2 linked regions of the Homo sapiens genome follow. The protein of the gene in region 1 purifies or fractionates together with the protein of each later gene. This does not show direct contact. Each region holds a gene or a part of one and is shown in the gene's direction. Other genes may lie near its edges.

What was found.
Region 2: the proteins of WIPF2 (region 1) and PACSIN1 purify together in Homo sapiens (co-immunoprecipitation; one large-scale study listed by IntAct). This does not show direct contact.

What each region holds. Positions count from the first base shown.
Region 1 is NC_000017.11:40,264,110-40,268,128, forward strand, and holds part of WIPF2 (WAS/WASL-interacting protein family member 2), read left to right. Parts: intron 1-380; coding exon 381-1,037; intron 1,038-4,019. UniProt on the Homo sapiens protein: Plays an active role in the formation of cell surface protrusions downstream of activated PDGFB receptors. Plays an important role in actin-microspike formation through cooperation with WASL.
Region 2 is NC_000006.12:34,472,576-34,476,075, forward strand, and holds part of PACSIN1 (protein kinase C and casein kinase substrate in neurons protein 1), read left to right. Parts: intron 1-3,500. UniProt on the Homo sapiens protein: Plays a role in the reorganization of the microtubule cytoskeleton via its interaction with MAPT; this decreases microtubule stability and inhibits MAPT-induced microtubule polymerization.

The sequences.
Region 1 (4,019 bases):
ATCACCTGAGGTTGGGATTTCGAGACCAGCCTGTCCAACGTGGTGAAACCCCATCTCTACTAAAAATACAAAAATCAGCCAGGTGTGGTGGCGCACACCTGTAATCCCAGCTACTCGGGAGGCTGAGGCAGGAGAATCACTTGAACCCAGAGGTTGCAGTGAGCTGAGATTGCACCATTGCACTCCAGCCTAGGCAACAACAGCGAAACTTCGTCTCAAAAAAAAAAAAAAAAAAAAAAAAAAAGAAAAACAAAAAACCCAGAATTATTCAATTCCTTTCCCTGCTGCCATGCAGGTTGCACTAAGGAGCCGAGTGAAGTAGGGATACTGACCAATATCTGTCCAGCTCTGTTGACCCTGTGTTGTCTATGTATTTGTAGAGAACCTAGCTGGTAAGCCAGCCCTGCAAATCCCCAGTTCTCGAGCTGCTGCCCCAAGGCCTCCAGTATCTGCCGCCAGCGGGCGTCCTCAGGATGATACAGACAGCAGCCGGGCCTCACTCCCAGAACTGCCCCGGATGCAGAGACCCTCTTTACCGGACCTCTCTCGGCCTAATACCACCAGCAGTACGGGCATGAAGCACAGCTCCTCTGCCCCTCCCCCACCACCCCCAGGGCGGCGTGCCAACGCACCCCCCACACCTCTGCCTATGCACAGCAGCAAAGCCCCCGCCTACAACAGAGAGAAACCCTTGCCACCGACGCCTGGACAAAGGCTTCACCCTGGTCGAGAGGGACCTCCTGCTCCACCCCCAGTCAAACCACCTCCTTCCCCTGTGAATATCAGAACAGGACCAAGTGGCCAGTCTCTGGCTCCTCCTCCTCCGCCTTACCGCCAGCCTCCTGGGGTCCCCAATGGACCCTCTAGCCCCACTAATGAGTCAGCCCCTGAGCTGCCACAGAGACACAATTCTTTGCATAGGAAGACACCAGGGCCTGTCAGAGGCCTAGCACCTCCTCCACCCACCTCGGCCTCCCCATCTTTACTGAGTAATAGGCCACCTCCCCCAGCCCGAGACCCTCCCAGTCGGGGAGCAGGTAAGTGCTTGGAAGCACCTTTTTCCCTATCATGCTGTGAGTTGATTTTATCTTTCCCCAGAGCACTCCTTGAAGACAGTAATTCGTTTATTCACTCAGTGGGTTTATTGAGTACCTTTTTATGTGTCAGGTCTGTTGGTAGGGAAATAGCAATAAATAGAAAAGACAAAAAAATTTGACAGTCAAACTAGTAAAATATATAAATACATAGTATGCAGTATGCTTTAGAGAATTACAAAGCAGAGGAGAGGAATAAGATATACTGGGGCGGAGGTCGGGATGATGATATCTTTAATTGGAGGAGTGGGGAGAGAGTCAGGACAGTCCTTACTGATACGGTGAAAATTTGACAAAGACCTTAAGAAAGTGACGAGTAAGCTTAGTAGTTATCTAGGAGAACAGCTGTTGCAGGCAGTGGGAACAACAAATGCAGAGGCCATAAGGCAGAAGTATTCTTGAAACATTTTGGGGACAGCAAGGGGGCCATTGTGGCAAGACTACAAAGAGTGAGGGGAGGGAAGAGTGGTAGGACTTGGAGGTTGGAAAGCTGGAGCTGCAGGGGAGAGCGCACTGCAGGATTTTGCAAAGACCTTGGATTTAACTGTGTGAGATGGGAAGCCACTGGAGGGTTTTAAACAGAGAAGTAGTATGATTTGATTCACCTTTTAAAAAGATCATTAACTCCTATGTTGAGAACAGACCGCAGGAGGACAAAGGTGACAAAAGGAGACCAGTTACTGGGCTGTTGCAGTAAACGGCCAGATGGTTAGGACTACTGTGAATTTGTGGGAAGATAGGTGTTCAGTTTGAGACAAGTTTGAGATGCCTGTTAGGTAATCAAGAAGAGACAATGAATTGGTAATTGGCTATCAGACTCCAAAGTTGAGGGGAGAGGTTTCGGCTAGAGAGATACATTTGAATGGTGTTGAAAACCACATGCTGGATGAAGTCACCTAAGGAGTGAATATAGATAAGAAGAGGCCTAGGAGGCTGAGGCAGGAGAATCGCTTGAACTCAGGAGGCAGAGGTTGCAGTGAGCCGAGATCACGCCACTGCACTCCAGCCTGGGCGACAGAGTGACAGTCCATCTCAAAAAAAAAAAAAAAAAAAATGAGGGCTGAGCCCTCGCCCTCCTACATTAGAGGCAAAAGAGATGAAGAATACCCAGCAGAGGAAACAGAAAAGCTTCTAGTGAGGATGGAAGGAGAAAAACCAAGAATGTGATGGAAAAACTCCAAGGTAGAGTAAGTGGTCAGCTGTGCCCAGTGCTGCAGATGGGTCAGGTAAGTTAAAGACCAAGAACTGGCATTGGTCTTAGTATCATGGGACCCTTTTGAGTAGTTTCAGTGGAGTGGTGGAGGGTGAAAGTGAAAGCTTAATTGGAGTGGGTTCAAGAATGCAGGAATAGGAGGAGAGAAATTGGAGATAGCAATATAGAAATCTCTTAAAGAGTTCGCTGTAAAGTCCAGGAGAGAGGGGTGAAGATAAGTGAAGTGATTGTTGGACGAAGATGTGGGGTTGAGAGTTGTTTTTTTCCCATCCCAAGATGGGAGACCTATTTGTATGCTGATGGAATGAGTAGCATGAAACTTAGGAGAGAGGGAAAAAATTGAATCAGAAGAGAGGGAACAGATTGCCTGAATAATGACCTGGAGGAGGCCAGAGAAAAGAGAATGTGATCGATAGATAAAAAGGGTTGGCCTTAGATAGGAACATAGTTCTTCCATAGTAACAAGAGGGGAGGCAGAGCATATAGGCTTAGAAGCAAGTGGGTAGGTGGGTGTAGTGGTAGAAGCATGTGGAAAGTTTATTCTAATTTGCTTCTGTTTTCTCAGTGAAATGGAAAGCAAGAGCATCAGCTGTGATTGAGGCGAGGGAAGGAGAAGGAGAGTTGAGGAGAGAGAAGAGGCATGAAATGGTCATCTGGAGCGTGGGAGTGTGGGTGGACTAGGGAAGTGTGCTCAGATAGGCAACCACGCGAAGGGCCCACTTGAGATTATGGGCCATACATTTCATGTGAGATTAATTAGTCTCATGTGTTCAGTTGTGATTTGCAGGTACAGAAAAAGAGTAGAGCTGTGTTTAACCAGCGTTAGCATGTTTTAGGCATGTGCGACTCTAAGGGAGAGTGGGGCAGGAAGGGAAGGGTGTATGTGAGGGAGTGATTGCAATAATGGAGCCTAAGCTGGGTGAGGAGGGAATTTAGGAACCCTGGAAAAAGAAGAGGTTGTGTAATCTCGTTATAATTAGCATAACTGAAATTTTAGAGTGAGGGAGACCGTGACAGCTCTCTGGGGCCTTATTGGACATGGGAATTTTGGCTCCCATATCGTTGTATCATTAGACTTTGAGACATACCCTCCACAAACAGCTTCTTGGCCTTTATTTATTTATTTGTTTGTTTGTGTTTTGAGACAGAGCCTTGCTCTTTCGCCCAGGCTGGAGTGCAGTGGTGCAATCTCTGCTCATTGCAACCTCTTCCTCCCAGGTTCAAGTGATTGTTGTGTCTCAGCCTCCTGACTAGCTGGAATTACAGGCATGTGCCACCATATCTGGCTAATTTTTGTATTTTTAGTAGAAACGGGTTTTCGCCGTGTTGGCCAGGCTGGTCTCAAACTCCTGACCTCAAGTGAGCCACTGCGCCCAGCCCTTAGCTTTTATTTTAAAGTCAGTTTCTACAGGTATAGAACATTGATTAAGGAGTTATGTCATGGAGTCTGGGCATGATGGCTCACGCCTTAATCCCAGCACTTTGGAAGGTTGAGGCCAGCAGATCATTTAAGCCCAGGAGTTCGAGACCAGCCTGGGCAACATGGCAAAACCCTGTCTCTACAAAAAATAATTTTAAAAAATTAGCCTGGCATGGCGGTGCATGCCTGTAGTCCCAGCTACTTGAGTGGCTGAGGTGGGAAGACCACTTGAGCCTGGGAGGTGGAGGCTGCAGTGAGCTGTATTAGTGCCACTGCACTTCAGCCTGGGCAA
Region 2 (3,500 bases), on another chromosome or scaffold:
AATGAGCACGTAAACTCCATTCCCCTTAATCTGATGGCATGTGAGTCACATGCTGCCACGTGTGTTTGGAGAGTTTTTATCTGTGGTTGGTTCCTAACTGGTCCCCTCATGGGCTTATATTCCCTCTCCCTCCTCCCAGGCCTGTGGTGCCTGAAACCTGGCGGGATGGGAAAGGGGGTAAGGTAAGGTAACATCTGGGTATCAGGAGGGCTGTAGAAGGAGTATGGCAGAAGTGGGGTATCTGGCAAAGTGGTGGTTGTGTAGCACTGGGGAGTCTTGTAGGGGCACAAAGGAGGGGCCGGGGATCCCTGACATGTGCCAGGCGCTCTTTTGTTTATCCATATTTATAACTCATTTAGTCCTCTTAGTAAGCTCATGGGGTTATCCCCATTTTACAGATGGGGCAACTGAAGTTAAGTGACTTGCCTGAGGTCACACAGTAAGTGGCTGAGCCAGATTCACAGCCATGCAGTCTGGCTCCAGAAGCTGTGCTTGTGAGCCTCTCTGCCTCAGCACCTGTCGTCGAGGAATGGGGATAATCTCTTGTCTCAGAGACTGGAGGCAGGTGTGTTCTGGAAGACTGAAGGAGGGTTGTCTTCTGCAGAAGGCAGACCTGGAAGGAAAGGCTGGTCAGATCCAGAGACGGGGCGGGGGGCGGGGGGGTACATTCCAGGCAGAGTGACAGCAGGGACAAAGATGCAAAGGCTGGAATGTGAGTGGTGGTCTCAGGGGCTGGGGAGGAAATCAGCATAGGAACACGAGAGAGGACATGGGTCGTGAGGCTGGTGGGGCAGCCAGCTTGGATTGCTGCTGCAGGGCACTTTAAATGATCAGCCTCATTGGACCTTGTGGGACAGGTGGCCCAGGGCTGCTTCTCCTTGCAGGGCCTGGCAAAGACCCTGCATCCCTTAGCCCCACTCTGCCTAATCTGGGCCTTCCCTGAGGTCACACATTTCATCACTGGGTTCCCGGGGTCTAGCCTTGACCAGCCACTGAGGACAAGAGGGGCAGCCGAGGCAGGGCTGGAGGGCTGGGGGTTGGGGGTCCAGGCTGAGGTCCTGGCCCTGACACTGACTCACTGAGGGGCCTAGGGCCACTCAACCCCCTCCCTTGGATTCTGTTTCCTCTTCTGTCTTTTATTTGCAAACTTTTTATTGTGAAATATTATAAGCATTTACAGAAGTAGAGAAAATGTTATATAACAGTCATATACTCATGGCTTAGCATCAACAGATACCAACACATGTCCAATCTCATCTCAATCAAGATATTTCTCTAAAAGATAAGGACTTTTTCTAACACAATCACAATACCATTATTATACCTAAGAAGTATTAATTCCTTTATATAGTCAAATATTCACTTAGTATTCACATTCCCTGTTGTCTCAGACATGTCTTTTTGTTTTTTAAATTGTTTAAATCAAGTTCCAGGTAAAGTTCACACGTTATGATTGGTTGATATGTCTTAGTCTCTTTCAATCCACAGTTCTCCTCTCCATCTTTTCTTATTCTTTTGCAGTTTATCTATGGGAGGAAGCAGGTGGTTTGTCCTGCTGTGTTTCCTGCAGACTGGATTTTGTTGATTGCATCCCTGTGGTGTTATTTAGTATGTTCTTCTGTCCTCTCTGTAAATTGGGAGTTGCATTTGTCTGTCCCTGACACCTCATTTAGTCATCAACAAGTCCTTCAATTCTACATTCAAAACACCCAGAATCCACCCACTTCTTGTCACCTCCATTGCTGCCTTCCCTTCTGAGCCTCCACTATCCTCTCCTAGATCTTTGCAGCAGCCTCTACCTGGTCTTCCTGCCCCGTCCTTGCCTCACCAGCCAAAGGTCCTTTAAAACTTAAATCAGATCACATCCTTCCTCTGCTAAAGCTCTTCAATGACTCCCCTCCCATTCAGAATAAAGCCCAGAATCCTATAACAGGCTAGATGCAGTGGCTCACACCTGTAATCCCAGCACTTTGGGAGGCCGAGGCAGGTGGATCACCTGAGGTCAGGGGTTTCAGACCAGCCTGGCCAACATGGTGAAACCCCATCTGTACTAAAATTACAAAAATTAGCCAGGTGTGATGGCACACACCTGTAGTCCCAGCTACTCAGGAGCCTGAGGCAGGAGAATCCCTCAAACCTGGGAGGCAGAGGTTGCAGTGAGCTGAGATCATACCACTGCATCCAGCCTGGGTGACAGAGCAAGACTCTGTCTCAGAAAAAAAAAAAAAAAAAAAAAGCCCTATAATTGCCTGCAAGACCCCATGTGATCCGGCTGCCCAATACCTCAGACCTTCTCTCATACATCCTAGCCTCACTGATCCCCAGGTCATTTCTTGGACCCATCAAACACCCTGCCCCAGGGCCTTTGCACTCCTATTCCCTATGCCTGGAATTCTCTTCCCCAAAGGCCTACATGGCTCATGATGTTCACATCTCCACCCACATCACCCCCTCAGAGAGGCCTCCCAGACCACCTTATCAAAAACAGCCCTCGTTGTCCCCCATCTCCTGATTCTACTTTATCATCTTCATAGCACTTATCCCTGACATTATGCTCTTGTTGGTTTCTTGTCTGTCCCCCTTACCTGCCCAAGCATTCCATGAAGGCAGGGTTTGGGTGGGGGCAGAGCAGCATGACTGGGCTTCCCCTACCCCTCACCCCTGCCCACAGAGCTGACCGCCTCCTCCTCTCACATTGCTAGCTCCTCTACTTTCAATGTTTCCTAAAATTAAAAAAAAAATTAAAAAAACACATATTTGTGCCTAGTGTGTCATTGTTTACAAAATACTTCCTGTCTCAAGTCTGGTCTTCTAGAAGCAGAGCTGAGACAAGGATTCCCGGGCAAATGATTTATTGCAGGCATGCTCATATTAGAGCGGGAAAAGATTTGCTTACAGCTAGGATCCCACGGAGAGCTCTAGATTATGAACAGCCAGTCTCCCAGGGTTACCTTCCTCCAGACAAGGGGCCAGGCCTTTGTAGCCCCTTAGCTGGTGGTCATTGTCTGCAAGCTGCTCCCGGGGAAGGGCCTAGCCTCCCCCTGCATCTCCAGATGAGGCAGCTCCTGTAAGCCAAGGGCAGCTCTCAGGGGAAGGGGGCAGCTGTGAGCTGCTAGCAGCCAGCACCCACAGCTGCTGAGAGATGGGTACCCCACCTGATAGAAGGACACTGGCAGTACCCCCTCTACTTCCATATCCATTTCTGCTTTGAGCCTTGCCACAAGCCTGTGGGGATGGTATTTATTAATGATAATTATTCCCATTTCCTAGAGGAGGAAGCTGAGGTTCTTAGGGCTGAAATGACTTGCTTGAGGTTGCACAGCCAGGAAGGGGTTAGATTTAAGCTCAAATTCTTACTCAGGATCCTCTGATTAGCGGACAAATCGTCTTAGTGGCTGCTGGTTTGTAGTTTTACTCTCAAGCATTCATCCTTTTGAATGTTAAATGAATATGTATTGCGTGTGGTGTGCTGTGTGCTGAACTAGGCACCAGGCCATTCA